Linked DNA regions of Homo sapiens: all the other regions are reported to be linked to region 4. Evidence: microRNA targets listed by miRTarBase, many of them from high-throughput screens and not tested one by one. Region 4 holds a microRNA gene; each other region holds the end of a gene's coding sequence. Distances are between the middles of the regions.
The links. The annotated mature microRNA hsa-miR-520g-3p reads ACAAAGUGCUUCCCUUUAGAGUGU and lies in region 4 at 1,720-1,743, shown strand. An mRNA with a match to its seed (bases 2 to 7 or 8) in the 3' UTR can be bound and repressed. Matches are read on the target gene's strand: a 7mer-m8 pairs with bases 2 to 8, a 7mer-A1 pairs with bases 2 to 7 and ends in A, and an 8mer does both.

Region 1: miRTarBase lists UBE2V2 as a target of hsa-miR-520g-3p. Seed matches in the 3' UTR shown: 7mer-m8 at 2,222-2,228.
Region 2: the mRNA of MFSD11 is a reported target of hsa-miR-520g-3p. Seed matches in the 3' UTR shown: 7mer-m8 at 2,864-2,870.
Region 3: miRTarBase lists SLC35F5 as a target of hsa-miR-520g-3p. Seed matches in the 3' UTR shown: 7mer-m8 at 693-699.
Region 5: the mRNA of ZNF257 is a reported target of hsa-miR-520g-3p. Seed matches in the 3' UTR shown: 7mer-m8 at 2,646-2,652.
Region 6: miRTarBase lists CAPZA2 as a target of hsa-miR-520g-3p. Seed matches in the 3' UTR shown: 7mer-m8 at 1,967-1,973, 7mer-m8 at 1,588-1,594 and 7mer-m8 at 150-156.

The regions. Positions count from the first base shown.
Region 1 is chr8:48,060,123-48,064,213 of GRCh38, forward strand. It overlaps UBE2V2 (ubiquitin conjugating enzyme E2 V2), which reads left to right. Exons shown (of 4, transcript NM_003350.3): 4 at 560-4,091. The coding sequence ends at 706. Among named protein-coding and RNA genes, the nearest start is that of UBE2V2, 54 kb to the left of the region's middle.
Region 2 is chr17:76,777,784-76,781,874 of GRCh38, reverse strand. MFSD11 (major facilitator superfamily domain containing 11) reads right to left here. Exons shown (of 13, transcript NM_001242532.5): 13 at 2,534-3,687. The coding sequence ends at 3,523. Among named protein-coding and RNA genes, the nearest start is that of LINC02080, 19 kb to the left of the region's middle.
Region 3 is chr2:113,714,343-113,718,433 of GRCh38, forward strand. SLC35F5 (solute carrier family 35 member F5) reads right to left here. Exons shown (of 16, transcript NM_025181.5): 15 at 3,411-3,508; 16 at 1-853. The coding sequence ends at 3,433. Among named protein-coding and RNA genes, the nearest start is that of MIR4782, 5.0 kb to the right of the region's middle.
Region 4 is chr19:53,720,501-53,724,583 of GRCh38, forward strand. It overlaps MIR520G (microRNA 520g), which reads left to right and starts at 1,666; the gene lies at 1,666-1,755. MIR517B (microRNA 517b) reads left to right here and starts at 576; the gene lies at 576-642.
Region 5 is chr19:22,088,566-22,092,656 of GRCh38, forward strand. It overlaps ZNF257 (zinc finger protein 257), which reads left to right. Exons shown (of 4, transcript NM_033468.4): 4 at 1-2,915. The coding sequence ends at 877. Among named protein-coding and RNA genes, the nearest start is that of ZNF257, 38 kb to the left of the region's middle.
Region 6 is chr7:116,917,500-116,921,590 of GRCh38, reverse strand. It overlaps CAPZA2 (capping actin protein of muscle Z-line subunit alpha 2), which reads right to left. Exons shown (of 10, transcript NM_006136.3): 10 at 1-3,864. The coding sequence ends at 3,724. Among named protein-coding and RNA genes, the nearest start is that of ST7, 34 kb to the left of the region's middle. RefSeq lists a silencer at 2,647-3,361.

The DNA.
Region 1 (4,091 bases), not on the chromosome of region 4:
TTTCTTGAACCTGGGAGGCGGAAGTTGCAGTGAGCCAGGATCGCACCACTGTACTCCAGCCTGGGTGACAGAGTGAGACTCTGTCTCAAAAAAAAAAAAAAAAAAAAAAAAGGAAAGAATAATTAGGAATAGTGCGTAGAATACATTGGAAAGAAAAATCTGAAAGAAGAGATCAGGTTAGTAGCTTTTGTCTAAATCTCAGTGTGAGATAATTCCCCAGATTTTGGGCGGTGGCATTGGAAATGGAGAGGAACCTTTTGACCTTACTCCATTAAGAAAGAATTGGTAAATTTATTGACAAAGTAGTTATTTAATATAACATTTATTTCTGATGACCAAAGTTCACTGTATGTTTTATGTCTTTATATTTTCCCAAAATATTAAACTAATTATGATAAAATATACTAATTATGGTATTAGTAATTCCATAGTGTATGTTTTGTGAAAATAGAGGCAAGCTATGAATTTTCAAAATCATTCTTATTAAAATATGCTTAACAAATTGGTGCCATAGTACTTTAAACTTGCTAGTTAACTGTACTCTTTCCTCCCCTTTCAGGTGGATGCCCGGAGCATACCAGTGTTAGCAAAATGGCAAAATTCATATAGCATTAAAGTTGTACTTCAAGAGCTAAGACGTCTAATGATGTCCAAAGAAAATATGAAGCTTCCACAGCCACCAGAAGGACAAACATACAACAATTAATTTTAGTGGATCTCAAACTTGTCTTAAATCAACAACCTTCTACTCATGTTAATGTCTTGATTAAATATCACAATGCAAAATACACATTAAGTAAAAGAATTCCAGCTGGTAAACATGACCTGGACATTTGTAAGAATATATTTAATATATGTACACCCATTATGTTTTCAGGTAACAGGAGGAAAAATGCAGCACAATTTTTTTTCTCTTGAAAGGCACTGTCATTTAAACATAAACCTGGAGTACTCGAAATAGAATTCAGGTTTACAAGATGAAAGCGTGTGGAGAAGTGTCAGATGGCAGTGGAAGCATGTGTGTTTCTAAAAAGTAAAAATCTCAAGAAAACAGAAATGGCATGCTTTACCCATCTTACTTAGTGAAAGAGAGCTGCAGTTGAAATTGTTTAAAAAGTAGCAGGTACAATGAATATTGTCACAGATGTGTTAATTTTTGAAGCAATGTGGGTGCTGACTACTAGTAGTATCAAAAATATGTTCAGGATTGTTTTGATACCTGTATTTATAATAAAAAATGTTGGGGGGAGTTGATGAATTCCTGTTAAAAGCTGTTCTTGTGTGTTACATGTAACAGACATGGTAAATATTTGTTTACAGTCTTTGTTTAACAAACCATGCATTTAAGTTTAAGTGAAGTCAACAAAAAGGAAATAGGTGTATGGATATGTGATTTTGAGATTAAAGTTAGTCTTAAAATGTAAATAAAATGTGAAACGTGTCCTCAGAGACTGTGCCATTTCTATTATGTTGATGTATATGTACAGTACCTTGCCAGGGAAGCAAAAATTGGAATTATTGTAGCTTTTCATGTATACACACTTTTATTTACCCTATTTTGTGTACTTCTTGTGAATTATAATTTGCAGACTATTTCAGAAAAGAAATTATCTAGTTTAATTTCTTCTTTGGACAAGGAGTCCTAGGTATTATATTTTGAGTTTGATTTCACCAGAAATAATAATATTAAAAAGATCTTTGCATTCTGGCAGTTCTTTTAGGATTATAGGTTGCAAATTATCCAAATATATATCCCATTTTTTAAAGCATAATATCTTTTTTAGTTGTTTTTCTGTGAAGCTTTTGGTTAATAAATAGGGTCAACTAATTGGAGACTTTTCTCTTCCAATTAGGGCTTTTAATACTAACAAGGATAACTTTATTCATTCCTCGTATTCTCTACTCTAACAAATATGAACTCTGAAGTTGAAAAGTCATTTATGTTCCGCTTTCACCAAAGTGACGTGAGGCTTTAGGTCACTGTTTCACTTCAAAGTACTGGATCCAAAGCTTTGTTGAAAATGCTGTTTGATGAATTCACTGAAGAATATAGAAAGGTGGTCAGGTAAAGTCTACTTTTATTTTGTCAAGCTTAATAATTTGTGTCATACTTTACCCCAGTATATATAGGCAAACCAAAACCTTATCAAATATTAAATTAGTTGTTTAAACTTTGCTTATAAAGTATTGGCCATGTGGTGGCTCATGCCGCTAATCCCAGCACTTTGGGAGGCTGAGACGGGCAGATCACTTGAGGTCAGGAGCTTGAGACCAGCCTGGCCAACATGATGAAACCCTGTCTCTACTAAAAATACAAAAAATTAGCCAGGTGTGGTGGTGGGTACTTGTAGTCCCAGCTACTCGGGAGGCTGGGCAGGAGAACTACTTGAAACTGGCAGACAGAGGTTGCAGTGCCGAGAGCGCACCACTGCTCCAGCCTGGGCAACAGAGCAAGACTCCATCTCAAAAAAAAAAAAAAAAAGAAAAATATTAATAATTGACCTTGGCTGTATATTAAAATAGTTACTTTTATAGTAGAGCACATTTCTCAAACATGCCCTGAAAGGCTTTTATCAAGCTCATATAAAGTTAAAGCTTTGAGCTACCTTTTCTTGGCCAATAAAGTCACTGACAGTTTATGTAAACATTAATTTCAACATGGCTGTTGCATTTTAATTATCAAAAATGTTTAAAATGCTTTAAGATGACACATAGAGAACATACACATACATACAAATTAGTGCATTTGTAATTTGTTAAATTTGAAATGAACTATTACCTTGAAATATAGTCTTTAAAAATTTTTAATGGTTAAAGATTAAATTGAATGAAACTGTAGTCTAATGGTAACTGATGATCTGAATCCGTCTCTCTGATAACCTCCTTTCCATTTTGAAAATGTGTCTTATTATACATGGAAGCTAGTAACTACGTGAATGCTGTTGGCAGGATGAGGGTCTGGGTACCTCAGTCTCTTGTCCTGTTTCCTTCCCCCAAATCCACCATTGTGAAGTTGCCAACCCCCTGCCGCCTTCCCCTGCCAAGTACATGTTGTCAGAGTCAGCCCTATAATGTTCATTTCCCCTCTTGTTTGTGGGATTATGGATCTCTGCAGAAATCTGCATGCCAATTAACCCATTTCTAAAGCAGAATCCATTTTGCATGTCACAATCAAGATGTACTTGGCAATCTAAGACACACTGGGAGACTGTAAGAGGAATTAATATAGAAAAGCTCTTAATTATAATAACATTTGGAAGAAATTTTTCCTTTGTTTTGTAAAGTGGCTAAGGTTGTAGGAGTGTGTGGTATTTATTACCTTTTAAATGAACTGTAAATTTGCCTTAGAAATTTGTTTAAAAGGCTAGCAAGTGAGACCCTTGAGGATGATCATATACTAATAAAGATTACCAAAAGAAACTTCTTGTCCTGTTAGGTCAGTGTTATGATTTAATGGTTTTAATTACTTAACCAATTTTAAGAATTGACAATTTTTAAAAATATTTTTTTCTACCATTCTAAAGTAATGTCTTTTGTTGTGGGTTTATGTGTAACTACAGGATTTTGGAACATAAACATTTTGAAGGATAGTCAATGGTATTTAGTCTTGGATATAAAAATAGAGAAAATTTATAGCTTTATGTTATTAAAATAATTTATCACACAGAGTGATTTGAGGTTTTCGCAGAGTAGATTTGTTTGACTCATGGTTTATTAGTCTGGATTACTTAAGAACAATATGTTGATTTTAATGTTAATTCCCACTAAATATATAATATTGATAAATACATGTGAAATTAATATTGTTTGGAAAATGTAGAGGACACAGCTGGGAATTATGAATGCTTTTTTCTTAATAGGTTTGGTGTGTGTGGCTTTGAATGGTTCTGCTGATGCATCATGGAAAGACAGCAGGGAACTGTAGCCTGCCATCAAAACTGTATCAACTCTTTTAATGAGCATGTGACTGTATTAGGTACATTTTGAAGAATATAAGTACTGATGATAAAGTCTAGTATGCATAATAGGATTTTGGAGGCATTTCAGGAATTTTCCTTTTATAGTATGCTTTTTAGGCATCTGTATGTGTA
Region 2 (4,091 bases), not on the chromosome of region 4:
GATCCAGCCTGGGCAACAAAGCAAGACCCTGTCTCTAACAAAAAAGTGAGTACGAAACTGAAAATGAATACCATAGCACAAAGCCAGTAGGAGGCAGCCTAGGAAAAGCTGGGTTCCTGCCATACTGCACACAGCACTTCACTTCATTTCCTTTCCCTTTTGACAATAATCACCAGGAATCCTAGGGGTGACAAGATGCCATGGCTTCCTCAGATTAAAATTCTCAGTGTCATTAACAGAGGTGGCTTCACCTCCTTCTGCCAGCAGGGTTGTACAGATCCATTATGAGCAAACAGAGCAAGGGCCTGGAGAATGCGAGGCTTGGGAATACAGGACCCAGTTGTCACCTTCCATGTAAGTCTCAGTGTGACAGGTGACAAGGTGGGCAGCCTTGTAAGATGCTCCCCACCAATTCCCTCCCTGAGAATAGGCTGGAACTAGTGACTGGCACCTAACAGACAGAGTGCAACAGTGATGAAGTTATGAGAGACTGCGGCTTTTGTCTTGCTCTCGTTCTCTCCAGCTGTCCTTGCTTGTGACCTTTGATGGAGACAGCTGCCATGTCGTAGGCTGCCCTGAGGACTACTCCGTAGCATGATGAAGGGCAGAGGGCGATCTTTAGCCAATAGCCATAAGAAACCAAGATCCTTACTTAGCCTGACAGTCTGTGAGGAACTGACTCCTGCAACAACTATACGAGTGAGCAGGGAAGCAGGCCCTCCCCCAGTGAAGCCTGGAACACACCTTCACTGCAGCCTGCAGAGACATGGACTGCAGCCTGGAGAGACGCTCAGGACTCAGCTCAGCCATGCGCAGATTCCCGACCCACAGAAACTGTGATGAAATAGATGTGTGTTATTTTAAGTGGCTACGTTTTGAGGTAATTTGTTATGGCACATTAGAAAACTAATACACCTTGATAAATAATGTGCTTAAAGAGATAATAAATCACTACTGTTAAGTCTAAAAGGGCATTTGTAAATTATTTATATAGGATCAACTAAGCCAATGGAGGTTATATCAGCTTCAAAAAGGAAAACCAGAACTTCAAAATCTGGAGCCGCTGGGCGCAGTGGCTCACGCCTGTAATCCCAGCACTTTGGGAGGCTGAGGCAGGCGGATCATGAGGTCAAGAGTTCGAGACCAGCCTGACCAACATGGTGAAACCCCGTCTCTACTGAAAATACAAAAATTAGCCAGGCGGGGTGGTGCATGCCTGTAATCCCAGCTACTCAGGAGGCTGAGGCAGGAGAATCGCTTTAACCTGGGAGGCGGAGGTTGCAGTGAGCCAAGATTGCGCCACTGCACTCTAGCCTGGGCAACAGAGTGAGACGCTGTCTTGAAAAAAAAAAAAAAACACATACACAACAACCAAAAGACAACAACAACAAAAGTGAGCTCTTCCTAGGCACGGTGGCTCTTGTTTGTAATCCCCCCAGCACTTTGCGAGGCCATGGCAAGAAGATCACTTAAGCCCAGGAGTTCAAGACCAGCCTGAGCAACATAGGGAGACTCTGTCTCTACTAAAAATTTGAAAAGAAAAAAAAAACAAAACTGAGCTGTCTCATTTACATGAAATGTTCAAAATAAGCAAATCTATAGAGACAGAAAGTAGATTCGTGGTTGCCATGCCAGATGAGAAAGAATGACTGCTGACAGGCAGCGACTACTTTTTGGGGTGATAAAATGTCCTGGAATTAGATCATTGTGGTGGTTATGCAACCTTGTGAATGTACACTTTAAAATGGGACATTTTTATGGTTTCTGGATTTGATTTCAATTTAAAAAAAAAATTTAAGTGAGCTCTTATGGAGGGAAGCTAACACTTCCATTTAACATCTCCCCAAATAGTTATGTTCCATTCCCGCACCCAGGATGATAGACTTGCACTGCTCGAGGAGGACACATAAATGACGGTGTGACACTGGCCTGATGACGCAGCTCAGATCTCATTCCAGGTTTGTTTGGGGGTTTCTGCATTGCATCTTCCAGGAAAATTGCTAGCAAAAGTCCTCCCTCAGTAAATATGTTTGTCTTTTTCAATGTTTTTGTTGTTACAGATGTTAGATCCCTGTTCTTAAGACTTAAAGGACCGGGCATGGTGGCTCACCCCTGCAATCCCAGCACTTTGGGAGGCCGAGGCAGGTGAATCACCTGAGGTCAGGAGTTCCAGACCAGCCTGGCCAACATGGTGAAACCCCATCTCTACTAAAAATACAAAAATTAGCCAGGTGTGGTGGCACATGCCTGTAATCCTAGCTAGTTGGGAGGCTAAAGAATGAGAATTGCTTGAACCCGGGAGGCAGAGGTTGCAGTGAGCTGAGATCACGCCACTGCACTCTAGCCTAGGCGACAGAGTGAGACTCCGTCTCTAAATAAATAAATAAATAATAAATAAATTTTAAAAAAGACTTATGACAATTTTTACCTTATTTCATAATACTTAACTGGCCACTCCTTGCTATGAGCTACAAGGTAAGAAAACTTATCAAATGAAACATTTACAGAGGAAGACATCTTTTCAAAATCAATATTTCATTTCAGCATCTTGTTATTTATTTTTCATTATTTTAAAAAATTATCATTATTATTTTCTTTTCTTTTTTTTTTTTTTTTTTTTGAGATGGAGTTTCACTCTTGTCATCCAGGCTGGAGTGCAATGGCACGATCTCGGCTCACTGCAACCTCCGCCTCCCAGGTTCAAGCGAATTCTCTTACCTCAGCCTCCCTAGTAGCTAGGATTACAGGCATGCACCACCAAACCCAACACATTTTTGTATTTTTAGTAGAGATGAGGTTTCACCATGTTGGCCAGGCTGGTCTCAAACTCCTGACCTCAGGTGATCCACCCACCTCAGCCTCCCAAAGTGTTGGGATTACAGGCATGAGCCACTGTGACCAGCCTATTATTATTTTCAAGACAGGGTCTCACTCTGTTGCCCAGCCTGGAGTGCAGTGGTGTGATCATAGCTCACCGCAGCCTCAATCTCCTGGGCTGAAGTGATCCTTCTGTCTCAGCCTCCCCAACAGCTGGGAGTATAGCGGTGCAACACCACACCCAGCTTTGCTATTTATTTAAATGTCATTCTCCAACACATATGGGGAATGACATATGCTTCCCATTATTACATGGCAAAACATACTCCATATCCAGAAAAAATATTTATATGACATATGGCCTAGTATTCTAAATCAAGGCAGGATCTTCCAACAAGAGCAGGAGAGAGAAGAAAACATTTACATTCTATAACATGATTATAAGAATTGAGATAGATGAAATGAAAAACAACATCTTTGAACAATTACAGTTGACAGAACAGCTTTCCCTTATTCTACTTGCTTTAAATAACTCATATCTGTAAACTTGAACACCAACTCTGGCTGATTTAACAGTCTTAATCCCTTGATTTTCCATACTGAACATCACCCAATATATAGTGAAGATCAAAGGCGACTTCTTCCACCAAGCTCTGTGTCCAGCTGTGTTTCTGAGGTCATACGTGTCCCCTCACGGACACCAGATCAGATACTTCGGTAGTCAGAGCCGCGGGCTACAAAGGCGGCAGCTTCCCATTCCACAGTGAAGAAAGAAATTGTTCCAAAAAACCCAAATATCACCATGACCAGGAGTTGCCAGTGAAGGAGAAGGTAGTTGCTGTAGAAAAATGCCACGGCTGCGCAAATAGACTAAGAACAAACAAAACAAATCACAACGGGCGCACCGGGGGCCACACTGAGCCACAGTTAGCCCCTAGCCCCACTCCTATCCTGCCCCAAGGACACCTGGAACTCACAGTGCTTTCTATTCTTTCTGCATCAAGGTATGACTTCCTCAGTCACTGACTCACAAACATGCACCATAAACTCCTGCCACAGTTCCTGGTATTTAAAATAGCATTTTGGCCAGGTGTGGGGGTTCATGCCACCCAACACTTTGGGAGGCCAAGGTGGGAGAAATGCTTGAGCCCAGGAGTTCAAGACCAGCCTGCACAACATAGCAAGACCCCATCTCTACAAAATAAAATAAAATGAAACAAAAATAGCATTTTGTGGAAAACTGGAGTAACAAGAATGTACAGAGTAAGAAATAC
Region 3 (4,091 bases), not on the chromosome of region 4:
AATACACAAATAGACGTATAAACATTGTATTTTAATAATACTCTTTGTCACTTCAATTTAAATCATTCCATTATGAAAATTTCTTAATTGAAGGGAGACTATTTCTTCAAAACTCTAAATTAAACAGAGCTTTATCAATTAAGTTTACAGCAATATAGCCTTTAGAAATACATATTTCTTCATTTTATAATAATACTTCCCCTTTAAAAATTTGCCATGGTTTGTCACAGATTTAAAATACAAGGCACCTAATGCTATAAAAGAATAATACAGTAAATGTAGTGTAAGTGAACCAGATATTTTCTCAAATACTTATTCTTTTTAAAGTCCCATGAAATTTGCACAAACATGCTTGTTGCATAAATTAAACATTTTTTGTGTGGTTAATTTGCAATATTCTACAAAACCCAAAAATATAATCCACACTTATTACAGGTAGCTTATTTTAGCATTTTACCTGTCAGAAATACTGGTCTATGAACACTTAAGTGATTTCTTGAAAACATTTTCATAATATATTCCAGCATTTAACATGTGAAAATAAAGTCCCAGAACATTAGGATTTATTCCTTGATTAGTTCAAATGATTTCAACAGCTGAATTCCTTGAGATGTGTAAGGCAGGTTGGTCCTTTGGATGGACTGTAGACTGAAACTTCCTATAACTGTAGTGATATGTACACAGCTACATAGCAAAGTGCTTCATTATGAAAATGAAGAAAACAGGTATGAGAAAAATATATTTTAGAGTTTCAAAGAACTCAAACTGTTATTTTTCAGACTAGGCACTGAAACATTTTTTCTACAAAAACTTGCCAGAGATTGTCTCTTCGCTGTATAGTTCCATTATCAAGCTAAAAACAGAAACCACAGAAATGTGATTAGATTATAATTTCACAGTTTTAGTTTTCTATAGTTTACATTTTAAAAAGCAAATTATCTTAAAATTGAAATACCTATTTTCACTGTATACATACTTAATAACTGGATACTCAAATTTGGAGTACTAAGAACTTATGAATGTGACTTCTATAGCAATGTCAAAAGCTGACATCAACACTAAAGACTGTGTATTAGCAGTTAGTTGTACTCCTGGTATATTCCACCATTACTCCTGCAAAGACAAAGTCACCTGCCCAGTCTATTCTACTCTATTGCAATCCATCCTCCCTAGTCTTCACTCTCTCCTTTACACAGCTCTCACTTCTAAAAATACTGAAACCTTGCTGGATATGGGTAGGTTTAAGTGTGAGTACGAGAACAATGCACAGCATACCCAAGAAAAATAATGCATAAATTACAGCATTAAAAAGCTTTCAAGAATACAAAGTCCTCACTTAATGTCATAGGTTCTAGGAAACTGACTTTAGGTCCCCGAATAACATTTTTTCGTTCAGTGTTGTTATGTTATAATGTTGATGCAAAAAAAAAAAGTTTTGCTGTAATTTTGCTTAAAGTCACAGTTTATAAGAACCTACTGATGATGTTAAGTGAGGACTTACTGTAATTGTGTTTACGTTTTTTTAAATTTAAAGATGGCACATAAACATATATTTAGTTCCACTTGTTCTCCAAAACCTCACTAAAAAGGAAACAAAGGGTTAAAAAAATATATTTTTTAACAGAAATAAGGTCTCACTATGTTGCCCAGGCTAGTCTCAAACTCCTGAGCTCAAGTTATCCTCCCTCCTTGGCCTCCCAAAATGCTAGGATTACAGGCATGAGTCACTATGCCCAGCCTGGAATTTTTTTCTTAAAAGGAATAAACCACATGGACAAAAAGAAAAGTAGAGAGATGAGAAAATAACAGCCAACTCTTGGTTAGCAATGGAAAAACAGGACCAGATATCTCTGTAAGGAGGGGTGAAGAAACAACTAAAAACATGAAGACTGGTATAATGTCTATAGAAAAAGCAGACAGACACTCAGATGCCCTCTCTTACTTTTCACAGTTGGCCAAGTGCCTTTTCTCTACCCCAGGAGAAGACTTTAAGGTTTACTCTCCAAAAAGGGTAGTAACAGAGAATCTCTGGATAAGGGAAATACCAGGACGAATCCTACATAGCTCAGTCATAAGTAACAATTTTTTAGTGACAACAATATAAACACTGACTACAGATCTATCCAAAGTTATGCAACAACTACACAGGGATGATGAGGAGGCAGAACTGATATGGAGACAGGAGGCCTATGAGGTGGGAGCAGAGGAGGAGTCAACTTGAAAATAATCTGTCCTCGTTGATCTTAGTGGGAAAGTCAGCTGAAGATGCCTAAAACCGAGAACTCATGAAACACAAGTCATAAGCATGATACTTAGGGAGACAAGAAGGAAAATACCAAAAGAATCAGCTAAGAGTTTAATTTCCTCAGAGTGGGAAGAAAATGAAAGCAGGATGAGCAGGGCAGGGAAGGGCAGGGGTAACTGCCTTGTACAAAAAGTCTTGGAGAACTAGAGCTCAAACCATGTGCAGGTATAAACTAGATTTAAAAACAGCACACTAAAGAAAAACAGAAAACCAGGACCATTAGCTGTAGGTTAGAAGCAAGTTTACCAGGAGGATAATGAAACTTAACCTTCAAGCCTAATATAAGTGTTAACAACTGACAGGAGTTGTACAATGTTCTAGATAGGGAGGGAAAACTCAGTAGCAATCAAGAAACACTTCAATATAAATTGCCTAAAGATGTCTTAGAAAAACTAGAAAAATTCTAGTAGTTTTTTGTGATCTTTCATTCTAAATAATCACTTTTGTACCTGCAAAATCTGTACGTTACATTTAATTCAAGCTTTCATTCAGCAAAATATTAAATGTCATGTACTCTATCATCGAAGACATATAAAAGACACTATTTCTTAAAATGGAAAAAATGGAAAAAAATTCCAGAAGCATTGTTAAATGACAAAGCAATGTCAGAGAATGAGGATAAACACTGTGCCAGTTATGTAAAACAGACACATAAAGACTAGTATTTTCCAACCAGTATATTGTACACCAGAATATTACATTTTTCTTTTATCATCAGAGAAAAAATATTTTTCTAAAGCATATTATTAAATAAAATGACCCTTAGCATGAATAAAAATGAGTTAAAACTTTCTGATCATTTGAGTCAGGCACTATTATACATACTTTATATTTACCAAGTATTTACTATTTTAACACCCTCATAAGGGAGGTTCTACTGTAATCCCATTTCACAAATAAGAAAGCTGGAGCATCAAGAGATTAAGAACCTTGCACAGGGCCACACAGCTAGTATGTGGAGAAGACGGAACTGGAGTCCAGGCTTTAGCCCCTTTAGCCTCTAAGGCTGTATTGCCTCTCAAACAACTAATTATAGAAAATCAATCCTTTGAATATTACACAGATAAGAACCTTATTCAATACTAAACCCAGCTCACATACAAACCTGGGCTACAGACAACAGACAGCTAACTAGCTCCATCCTCCTGAGAAACACTGTGCATAGAAATGAGACTCTCACACTGTTCGCTGTCTTCTGGAACTCTTAAGAAAAAAAAAAGCAGTAATTAAGGAAAGCTTTAGAGCTGAAAAGGAACCTCAAACCTTATTTATTCCATTGCCTGAAGCTATGTGGACAGGATGCAAGTCAGTGGCAGAACCAACACTAGGATAAAATTTCCCAAGAACTTGTCCCAAGTTAGCGTTTTTTGTTTTTGTTTTTTAAATAAGAGATAGGGTCTCACTTTTTGTTTTTTAAATAAGAGATACGGTCTCACTTTTTGTTTTTTAAATAAGAGACAGGGTATCACTTTGTCACCCAGGCTAAAGTGTAGTGGTGCTATTATAGTTCACTGCAGCTTTGAATTCCTGGGCTCAAGTGATCCTCCTACCTCAGCCTCCCAAGTAGCTTGGGACTGCAGGTATATGCCATCATGTCTGGGTAATTTTTTTTTTAATTTTCTTAGAGACAGGGTCTTGATATGTTGCCCAGGCTGGTCTTGAGCTCCTAGCCTCAAGCAATTCTCCCACCTCAGCCTCCAGAGTCACTGGAACCAAGTTCTTTTTATAGCAAAATGTAAAAAGCTTTCATTCTTAAAAAGAAAGAAATTGGAAAGAAAAACTGAGG
Region 4 (4,083 bases):
GACCAGTCTGACCAACGTGGTGAAAATCCGTCTCTACTAAAAATACAATAACAACAAAAATTAGCCCAGTGTGGTGGTGGGCACCTGTAATCCCAGCTACTTAGGAGGCTGAGGCAGGAGAATTGCTTGAACCCGGGAGGCAGAGGCTGCAGTGAGCCGAGATTGTGCCACAGCATCCAGCCAGGATGACAGAGTGAGATTCCGTCTGAAAAAAAAAAAAAAAAAAAAAAGCTGGGCGCTGTGGCTCACGCCTGTAATCCCACCACTTTGAAAGGCCGAGGCGGGTGGATCACGAGGTCAGGAGATCGAGACCATCCTGGCTAACACGGTGAAACCCCATCTCTATTTAAAAATACAAAAAATTAGCGAGGCGTGGTGGTGGGTGCCTGTAGTCCCAGCTACCCGGGAGGCTAAGGCTTGAGAATGGCTTGAACCCAGGAGGCGGAGCTTGCAGTGAGCCGAGATCGTGCCATTGCACTCTAGCCTCGGCAACAGAGCAAGACTCCGTCAAAAAGAAACAAAAACAAAAACAAAAAAAAGAACCCTACAGTACTGGAGCAAGAAGACCTCATGCTGTGACCCTCTAGATGGAAGCACTGTCTGTTGTCTAAGAAAAGATCGTGCATCCCTTTAGAGTGTTACTGTTTGAGAAAAGCAACGTTGAAGATGCTGCTGATCTTGGTAATACATTTGCAGAGCGTGCTTATCATCAGACTTGCATGATGTTGGGGTTCTCTTTGGTTTGTTTTTTTCCAAGACAGGTTCCCTGTTGCCCAGGCGGGAGTGGGTGGCACCTCCAACCGAGATCTCTTGGGCTCAAGTGGTGATCTTTTTATTTTTGATTTTTTGAGATGCGCTCTCATTCCGTTTCCCAGGCTGGAGTGCAGCGGCAGGATCCCTGTTGACCGGAAACTCCGCCTCCCAGCTTCCGGCGATTCTCCCACCTCAGCCTGCCGAATAGTTGGGAATAGAGATGCCCGCCATCGTGTCCTGCTAGTTATTATTTTTATTGTTGTTGTTGTTGTTGAGATGGAGTTTCACTCTTGATGTCCAGGCTGGAGTGCAGTGTTGCAATTTAGGCTCACTGCAACCTCCACCTCCTGGGTTCAAGCGATTCTCCTGCCGCAGCCTCCTGGGTAGCTGGGATTACAGGTGCCTACTGCCCCACCCAGCTAATTTTTGTGTTTTGAATAGAGACTGGGTTTCACCATGTTGGGCAGGCTGGTCTCAAACTCCCGACCTCAGGTGATCCACCAGCCTTGGCCTCCTAAAGTGCTGGGATTACAGGCGTGAGCCACCGCCCCTAATCTCACGTGGTCCTCTAGAGTCAGCCTAGACTCTGGTCTATCCTGGAGGATGTTTGTGTGTGAGACAATGTATATTCTTCAACATCAGCCCAATTCTCTTAGCTAAATGTAAGGTATGAGTAGTAGGTATTCCTTTTTCTCTTTGGGGACAAAACTCAGGACGATCGCCCCTTGATGAACAAGGCTAACCTGCTGAGCCTTTGAAGCAAGGAATTGGAGATGGTCCTTTCAGGGGTTTATGTTCTGGATTCCATAAAACATGTAAACAGGGCCAATAAATGCATTTTTATTTTTGTATCCGTTTTAACCTGGTCAAGGAAAATTCCAACAAGAAACCCAGAGTGCTGGAGCAAGAAGATCCCATGCTGTGACCCTCTAGAGGAAGCACTTTCTGTTTGTTGTCTGAGAAAAAACAAAGTGCTTCCCTTTAGAGTGTTACCGTTTGGGAAAAGCAGTGTTGAAGTTGATGCTGATGTTGGTAATATATTTGCATGCTTATTATCAGACTTGGATGATGTTGGGGTTCTGTTTTGTTTTTGTTTTCTAAGACAGGGTCTCTGTGGCCCAGGCTGGAGTACAGAGGCACTTCCAACCTAGGTCTCTTGGGCTCATATGGTCCTTTTTGGGACAGTCTTCCTCTGTGACCCAGGCTGGAGTGCAGTGGCACGATCTTGGCTCACTGCAATCTCCACCTCGCGGGTTCAAGCTATTCTCCTGCCTCAGCTTCCTGAATAGCTGGGATTGCAGGGGCCCGACATCACACTTGGCTAATATTTGTATTTTTCTTTTTTATTCATTTATTTATTTTTGAGATGGAGTCTCGTTTCCCCAGCTGGAGAGCGGTGGCATGATCCCGACTGACTCCAACCTCTGCCTCTCAGGTTCAAGCAATTCTCCTGCCTCAGCCTCTGAAGTAGCTGAAACTACAGGTGGCCGCCACCACGCCTGGCTACGTTTTGAATTTTTTTTTTTTTTTTTTTCAGTAGAGATGGGGCTTACCATGTTGGCCAGGCTGGTCTCAAACCCCTGACCTCAAGTGAGCCACTCACCTTGGCCTCCGAAAATGCTGAGAATACAGGCATGAGCCACCACCGCGCGCCTCCCAAAGGCGTGAGCCATGGTGCGTGGCCATCAACACCTCTTACTTTATGGAAATTTTTCTGGCACTGGTATAGAACCTCACATGGGGTCAGGTGGAGTTGAGGGGACCTCAGTGTCCCTGCAGATGGGATGAGCAAGAGCACGGAGGTGGAGTGCATGGGGCTTCAGTGTGTATTGGGGAAATGAAGCTGAAATCTTGGGTGCATGACCAGGAGATAAATGCATGAGACGGGGGTCTCACTATGCTGCCCTGGCTAAAGTGGTCTTAGATCCTCCTGCCTCTGCCCCTCCCAGGCCTTGTTAGATGGGACTACATGTAAATATTAACCCATGCACAGGCAGGAAGAAAGTAAGGACCATTTTTTGGTTCGTCCCGGCCCTCAGTTAAACTTGTGTTTTAGATAAACAATGTATTTGAGATGTGCTTAAACAATAAATGATACGCTATTTAGGTGTGGGCATCTTTGTTTCCCCCTAATTTTAATGATGGGACTAGTCCAGGTATGGTGGCTCCTGCCTATAATTCCAGCACTTTGGGAGGCCGAGACAGGAGGATCACCTGAGGTCAGTTGTTCGAGACCGGCCTGGCCAACATGGTGAAACCCCGTCCATACTAAAAATACAAAAATCAGCCAGGCCTGGTTGCACACACCTGTAATCCCAGCTACTCGGGAGGCTGAGGCAGGAGACTCGCTTGAAGCCAGGAGGCTGAGCTTTCAGTGAGCTGAGATTGCGCCACTGCATTCCAGCCTGGGCAACTGAGTGAGTCTCAGTGTCAACAAAGTAAATAATAGTCTAGGCACAGCGGCACACGCCTGTAATCCCAGCACTTTAGGAGGCTAAGACGGGAGGATCACCTGAGGTCAGGAGTTCAAGACCAACGGGGCCAACGTGGCAAAGCCTTGTCTCTACTAAAACTACAAAAATTAGCTGGGTGCGGTGGTGCACATCTGTGATTCCAGCTACTCGGGAGGCCAAGACAGGAGAACCACTTGAACCCAGGAGGAGGCGATTTCAGTGAGCTGTAATGAAGCCATGGCATTCCAGCCTGGGCCACAGAGCAAGATTCCGTCTCAAAAATAAATAAAACAAATAAAAATACGTAGATAAATACGGGACCGTCGTGAATTTGAGTGTCACCTTTGTGGAGCAGCCACGGTAATCTCTGTCATTCCAATTTTTTTTATGTGCACTACCAAAGCAAGAACTTGTGTAGGAATTATTCTTCCTGTGAGTATGCGATGTATGGAACTTTCCTTGAGACAGGGTCTCAAAAATATATCATGTATATTTTATATATTCTTATCATATATAATATAATCATGTACACACAAAATACTCTTCTAAATACAGAGAATACTCTGATATCACCTTGCGTATTTTTTGTTTGCATGTGTCTGTGTTTGGTTGTTTTTTTTTTGTCATATTTTTGTATCCCTACTTATATATTTATTTTTAATTTTATTATTATACTTTAAGTTCTAGGGTACATGTGCACAACGTGCAGGTTAGTTACATATGTATACATGTGCCATGCTGGTGTGCTGCACCCATTAACTCATCATTTAGCATTAGGTATATCTCCTAATGCTATCCCTCCCCGCTACCCCCACCCAACAACAGTCCCCGGTGTGTGATGTTCCCCTTCCTGTGTCCATGTGTTCTCATTGTTCAG
Region 5 (4,091 bases), 32 Mb from region 4:
TACTCAACATAAGAGAATTCATAATAGAGAGAAGCCCTTCAAATATGATGAATGTTGCAAAGCCTTTAAGTGGTCCTCAGCTCTTACTACCCTTACTCAACATAAGAGAATTCATACTGGAGAGAAACCCTACAAATGTGAAGAGTGTGGCAAAGCCTTTAACCAGTCCTCAGCCCTTACTCGACATAAGATGATTCATACTGGAGAGAAACCCTTCCAATGTGAAGAGTGTGGCAAAGCTTTTAACCGGTCTTCACACCTTACTCAACATAAGATAATTCATACTAAAGAGAAACCCTACAAATGTGAAGAGTGTGGAAAAGCCTTTAACCGGTCTTCACACCTTACTAAACATAAGAGAATTCATACTAGAGAGAAGGCCTACAAATGTGATGAATATTGCAAAGCTTTTAACTGGTCCTCAGCTCTTACTACCCTTACTCAGCATAAGATAATTCATACTGGAGAGAAACCCTACAAATGTGAAGAGTGTGGCAAAGCCTTTAACCGGTCTTCATACCTTATTCGACATAAGATAATTCATACTGGAGAGAAACCCTACAAATGTGAAGAGTGTGGCAAAGCCTTTAACCAGTCTTCACACCTTACTCAACATAAAATAATTCATACTGGGGAGAAGCCCTACAAATGTGAAGAATGTGGCAAAGCCTTTAACCGGTCTTCACACCTTTCTCAACATAAGATAATTCATACTGGAGAGAAACCCTACAAATGTGAAGAATGTGGCAAGCCTTTTAATCGTTTCTCATACCTTACCGTACATAAGAGAATTCATGCTGGAGAGAACCCCAACAAATATGAAGAATGTGGCAAAGCTTGTAACCATTCCTCAAACCTTACTAAACATAATTCATAATGGAGAAAAACCCTACAAATGTGAAGAATGTGTCAAAGCTTTTAACTGTTCCTCAATCCTTACTAAACATAAGGGAATTCATAATAGAGAAACCCTACAAATGTGAAGAACGTGGCCTGGCTTTTAACAAATCCTCAACATTTACTAAGCATAAAATAATTCATGCTGGAGAGAAACTCTTGAAATGTGATGAATGTGGCATAGCCTCTTCCCAGTTCTCAACTCTTACTAAACATGAGAACACATGTGGAAGATAAAGCCTACAAATATGAAGAATGTGACAAGGCCTTTAAAAGTTCTCAACCCTTATTACACATAATTTATACTGGACAGAAATCCTAAAGTGTGAAGAATGTCACAAAGCCCTTAATAAGTCCTCAATTCTTAACAGATATAAGATGTTTCATACTGGAGCGAAACTACAATCCTGAATGATGTCACAGTGCTTTTAACAATACCTCAAACTTTTCTAAACATAAAAAAAAATTATACTAGTGCGAAACTCTAGAAATATAAAGAACATGAAAAACTTTTAAATGGTTTTCACACTTGATTGCAGGTAAAATAATTTATACCGGAGAAAACTCCAAGTGTGAAGAATATAACTTTTAACCAGTGTTCACAACTTATTGTACAGGAAAGCATTTATAGTTGAGAAATGGTGTACAAATATAAAGAATGTGGAAAAGTCATTAATATTTGCTCACATATTACACATCAGAGAGTTCATACTTAATAAAAGTATTATAAATACAATTACTGTCAAATGATCTTTCAGAAATATAAACCTTTAAAGTGAAGAAGAGTTCATTCTAAAGACAAACATTACAAATATAAAGGGGTTTGTAGTGCTTTTACTTGTATCACAGATTTTATTGTACACATTTTGTACTAGAGAATAACCCTGAAGCAGTTGCTAAAATTTTGTTCAGCATTAGGAAATTTATGTTGGAGAAGAATTCAGCAAGTGTGATTAATTTGGAAAAACATTTTTTCCATAACTATAGCTTAGAAAATGCCAGAGAGCTCATACTAAAATATACTTTTGCAGATGCAATAAATACAAAGAAATATTTAATTCAAATTGAGTTTATATAATTATCAGAGAATTAACAGTAGAAATAGCTAAGGCACTGACACTTCAGACATTACACTAAATCAGATTGCTGAGTATAGAAAATCCAAAACTACAGTTGGTAAGTAAATTAATTTTATGTAACTTTAAAATGAGTAGACATTTCTTTGAGAAGTCATAATTAAATTCAAGTATACTTTTTTGATAAAATTATAAAGCTTTTTAAAAGTAAATAATGATGTAAGTCAACTCTCAAATTACTTCATGCTGTTTCTTCATTTCTATTGTATTCACCTGTGAAAGCATGTGATCAACTATTGCTGCATCAGAGATATGAGAGATACTTTATTAGGTGGGAATTATATACGACCTCTTCTATAAAATAGTAAGGACACTGAAATATAAGATGCATAAGAGTCTAAGTGAAGAGGTTCTTTGTGGTTAACTTAGTGATGTATGAAGTAGTTGCTCATGTTATGAGAGAAAAACATTTTTAATTTTAGTTAAATGTAAGTTAAAATTAAAATAGTACCATATAATGTTAGTGATTGTACTTTTATTTAATAAAATGCAGTACATTTTAAAATTTTTAGATTATTTGTGGACTTAATTTATAATTAAATATTTTCTTTTACCACGTTAAGACTATTGTACGTTCAGGCCGGGCACAGTAGCTCACGCCTGTAATCCCAACACTTTGGGAGGCTGAGGCGGGCGGATCAATTGAGGCCAGGAGTTTGAAACCAGCCTGGCCAACATGGTGAAACCCTGTCTCTACTGAAAATACAAAAAATTAGCCAGGCATGGTGGTGGGTGCCTGAAATCCCAGCTATTTGGGAGATTGAGGCAAGAGAATCACGTGTACCCAGGAGGCAGAGGTTGCAGTGAGCCAAGATCACGACATTGCACTCCAGCCTAGGCAACAAGAGCAAGACTTCGTCTCAAAAAAAAAAAAAAAAAAAAGACTTGTGCATTCAGTGGAGTATTATTATTCCACTAACTTTAACATACCCCACCTTACTCAAGGGTGTAGGTAAAATATGGTAACAATATGCTATTTGGCAACATAGTGGAATAACACCTCTAGTAATCTCTTCTGCCAATGGCTTCAAATTGCAAATAAGTTAAAAAATATTTTTCCCATAGGTTACATTTTTATCCTTTTTTTCTTAAATTTATTCTTTTTAATTTTGTGGTTACACAGTATGTGTATATATTTATGCCATATATGGCATATTTTGGTACAGGCATATAATATATAATAGTTACATCAGGATAAATGAGGCATCCATCACCTCTAGCATTTATCCTTTTTATTACAAACAATTTGATTAGTAAAATAAAAATATTGTTATTTTAAAATATTAAAAGTACTTTATTTTAAAATTTGCAATTGTTCTGACTACAGGGTCATTTTTATGGTCATAATAAAATTTATATAGAAGTATAAATAAAATTGATACATTTCTAAGTACTGAATAAATATTTAAAGAATTTGTTACATATTTTTCTTTGAACATGATTTATCTCTGCCTGCAAACACATATAGGCTTTTAGTTTTGATTTACATAGAGTTAAACATATACATATATTACTCTAAAGATAAACCTTAGGTGTAAGAAAATTATGAAGTAAGTGTGTATGAGTATGAGTTTGTACCCATTTTTGGAAGGAGAAAGCAATATTGGAACAAAACAAATTATTTTAATAAGGTGACTTATTAGAAAACTAAAAACCTCGAAAATGTTGAAAGCAAATCTATACTCTGTGCATTGTATTGAATTCATTGCTATAAAATGTTAGGGCTTATAGTTCAGAATCTCCCTATGCACATTCTCTGTTTTTACTTGTCTGGTACTCATGCTAGACCCATAATGTTCTTGTTTTGTATTTTATGAAGTACTCATTATGTGAGCTGGTCAGGGATTATAAGAATGATTTTTATGAAATTTAAGAGTGCACACAAAATAATTTTTAGATGTAATTACAAAATTAGTTATATTTTTATATAAGTTAGTTTTTATATAATAGTTATATTGTTATATTTTAACGTTTGATTTTTGTTTTATTGGAGAAACCTGTATAAGGCTAATTTTCTTTATTGTTTCTTTCACTTTTTATAATTGACATAAGTAAATC
Region 6 (4,091 bases), not on the chromosome of region 4:
CTGCCTCAGCCTCCTGAGTAGCTGGGACTACAGGCATGTGCCACCATGCCCGGCTAATATTTGTATTTTTAATACAGAAGGGGTTTCATCATATTAGCCAGACTGGTCTTGAACTCCTGACCTTAAATGATCCACTTGCCGTGGCCTCCCAAAGTGCTGGGATTATAGGCGTGAGCCATCGTGGCCAGCCCACCACTTTTTTTTTTTTTTGGGACAGAGTCTCGCTCTGTCGCCAGCCTGGAGTGCAGTGGCACAATCTCGGCTCACTGCAACCTTCGCATCCTGGGTTCAAGCGATTCTCCTGCCTCAGCCTCCCTAGTAGCTGGGACTACAGGCACACCACCACGCCCAGCTAATTTTTGTATTTTTAGTAGAGATGGGGTTGCACCATATTGGCCAGGATGGTCTTGATCTCTGGACCTCATGATCCACCCACCTCAGCCTCCTAAAGTGCTGGGATTACAGGCATGAGCCACTGCGCCCGGCCCACTTCTTACATTTCCAGGTCATTCTTTCTAGTTCCCCTACTTTAACACACCTATAATCCACTGGTTGTACATTTTCACTATCCCTCCCCCCGTCTCAAGCCCTCACTTCCCTGCTTACCCAGCTGAAATTCCACAGACCATCATCATACCCTGCCCCTCTTCATGTGGTCATTCACTCTGGGCAAAACCACAGCCCTGGTGAAATTTATTTCATCTACTCTATGCCTGCACCCAAACAGCTTTACACGGTTGAAGAAAAACATACAGCCATGCTCATCATTGGTCTCATTTACTTTAAATTCATTATCACTAACCTTGAGGTCCTTCATCCTGTCTGCCTATAAAATTGTTTCCAGGTTCATGCACTTTCCCATTCTTCTAGCCCAGAGCTTTCCTCTAGTTCCTGTCTCCTGTATCTAACTGCTACATGAGATATTTCTCCTTTGAATAGAAAACTGAGCTCCTGACCAGCCTTCTTCTCCAAACCAACTTGCTCCTACAAGAATCTTCCTCAATTTCTCCAGCCCCAGACATGGTTCTCTTTATCTCACACTCCATGACCAAACTCTCCCCAGGTCTTGCTGATTTTACCTTTAGGATATACCTAGACCTCACTGCTTTATACCACCTCTACAGCAACCACCTCAGTCCAAGCCAGCATGCTCTCTCAACTAGATTACTGCAGTAGTCTCCTAGCTGTTCTCCCTGATTATGCCTTTGCCACCACACTTCAGCCTACTCAGCAAAGCAGCCATAATGTCTCCTACTAAAATTACATCCCTGAGCTATAGGATACTCTGGGTTTCCATTCTTCTTTCACTTTAATAAATGCCATTCTTTTATTATTATTATTATTTTGAGACAGAGGCTCCCTGTGTCACCCAGGCTGGAGTACAGTGGCTCGATCTCTGCTCACTGCAACCTCCACCTCCCGGGTTCAAATGATTCTCCTGTCTCAGCCTCCTGAGTAGTTGGGATTACAGGCGCGCATCACCATCCCCGGCTAATTTTTTTTTGTTTTTAGTAGAGACGGGGTTTCAGCATGTTGGTCAGGCTGGTCTCGAACTCCTGACCTCGTGATCCACCCGCCTCGGCCTCCCAAAGTGCTGGGATTACAGGTGTGAGCCACTGTGCCCTGCCTAATAAATGCCATTCTTATACTATAAAAGACTATTCTGTGCCATCATTATTTCAGACTGTTCTAAATTATATTATTATTATTATTATTATTATTTTTTGAGACAGAGTCTTGCTCTGTCACCCAGGCTGGAGTGCAGTGGCGCGATCTCGGCTCACTGCGAGCTCCGCCTCCCGGGTTCACGCCATTCTCCTGCCTCAGCCTCCCGAGTAGCTGGGACTACAAGCGCCTGTCACCACACCCGGCTAATTTTTTGTATTTTTAGTAGAGACAGGGTTTCACTGTGTTAGTCAGGGTGGTCTCAATCTCCTGACCCCGTGATCCACCCGCCTCGGCCTCCCAAAGTGCTGGGATTACAGATGTGAGCCACCGCGCCCAGCCTGTTCTAAATTATTTTTGATAAATCTTCCGTCTCACAAGCAAATCACCTTAAAAACAGTTGCATACATTTTCAGTAATGCATTCCAGACTAGAACAGAGATAGGAAATTGATGACTTTCATGGGATAGAAACTCATGATGGCCTAACTGATACAACTAAGCTTGTCAATTAGATCTAGTATTTAGTTCACCATCATCAAACTTTCAAATATATATATTTTAAAAAGGAACAGATAATTAATGTTACCAATTCATTTTCTTTAGGAATCCCAATGTGCCAAAACTTGTATTTTAAAACTAAAGAAAAGATGATTTAGACAAAATGTCATAATTTCATATTATATTCTCAATGCTTTCAAAGCCCAACAGTGATTTTAAAAAGAAATTAAACAACATGCTTTCATTGAATTTTTAAAAATCTATACAATTCAAGCTAATGAAATATTTTATTGTACATAATAAAAGTGGTGTTTTTCTAAAAAAAAAAACAATAAAATAAAATAAAAAAAAAATTTCCAGGCCCAGACGTCTGTGGGAGTACGTGAGGAAAGGATTCCACTCAAGTATAATCAGCAATACTCTATTGAATGAAACCATAACTCCACTTCACTCCCTATGGTAAATACTAACATTCACCACAGGCTTGAAATTCCTGTAGCATCAGTAGAACTATTTTTGAAAATATTACAAACATGCTTATGATGCATAGGAGGATGAAAAAATTTAGACTGTAACCGCACACCATATGTAATCCCAGCTTTTCTAATTTACAACCAGTTAAGAATTACAATATCCAAAGAAAGTATTTTAAAATATATATGCTCACTGGTAAGTGATTTTCTACTCAAATAAATAGGAAAATTTGCATTTTAATGTCACATTGAATTTCAGTACTTTTCAATCCAAGAAAAAAAAAATAAACCGAGACATGGTCATGAGTTCAGGATTATATATATTACAATTTGCCTTGTTATAATACATTTGTGGCTTTATGATAAAAATAACTCAGGGACATATGGAATTCAAGCTGATTTGCGTAACTGTCACAAGAAAAAAAGCATTAAATGCATTTCTGAAATAAGTATTTTCATTAATTTCAGAATCTCAAAACAGCATTAGACCTTGCCTTGTTTAAAAAAAATTTAGTTCAACACTAAGCTAGCTAAATAACCTTCTTGAAAGGTTTAAACACAATTGATATAGAAAATGCTTTCCCTCTAATCTCAACTTTACATAAATGGAACAGGTGAGGAAGAAAAGGTAGACAATTTCTTTAGCAGCATATATGGCTAAATCCATCAACCACCTTAAACTAGAATGTCCATTATTGACCCCATTAAAAAGAACTGGGGAAATATCAAAAATTACTGATTTCATAAACCAAAAGACATCAATTTTAGGGTTACAGTTAGTAAAATATTTTTGAGACACTTCAAAAACTTTTAACCATAAACTAGAAGAATCATCTCTTCATTGTAAGAAAGAAAGGCCTAACAGAAAGACATTTAAACTAAACTGATTTTCAATCCTCTTAGAACAAACAAAATGAAAAATAATGGTTGATTAGCTAAGCTTTGTGCTCTAATCAAACTAATTAATTACAGTGATTTTAAATGGCAACAGCCCATCTGACTGGGCAGCTTGACAGTTCAGAATACTTTTGCAATGATTTTTTAACGCAAAGACACTAAAATGATCCGGTCATGCAATGTTCATCTTATGCATTCTGCATCTCTTTGCCAATCTTGTAGCTAAGGATCTTGTTCCAATCAATCTTAGTGCGTGTAACTGGCAACTGTCGACGTAAGGCTTTGAAAGTAGTGTCCGACATTGTCTGATAATTCTCACTGATGGCAGTCTATGAAAAACAATAGTTAGAAGTTTAAAGTAAAGCAAAGAACAGAACAATTTATAAAGCACATAGATGTTTTCAGAATAAGTTTTATTTAAGCAGCCTGTTTCACTGTTTTTAAACAGTCAAATAAAATCCCAACATTGTTTTAAAAGCTGTTTAACAGCAGCTAGAAGAGCCGGGCGCGGTGGCTCACGCCTGTAATCCCAGCACTTTGGGAGGCTGAGGTGGGC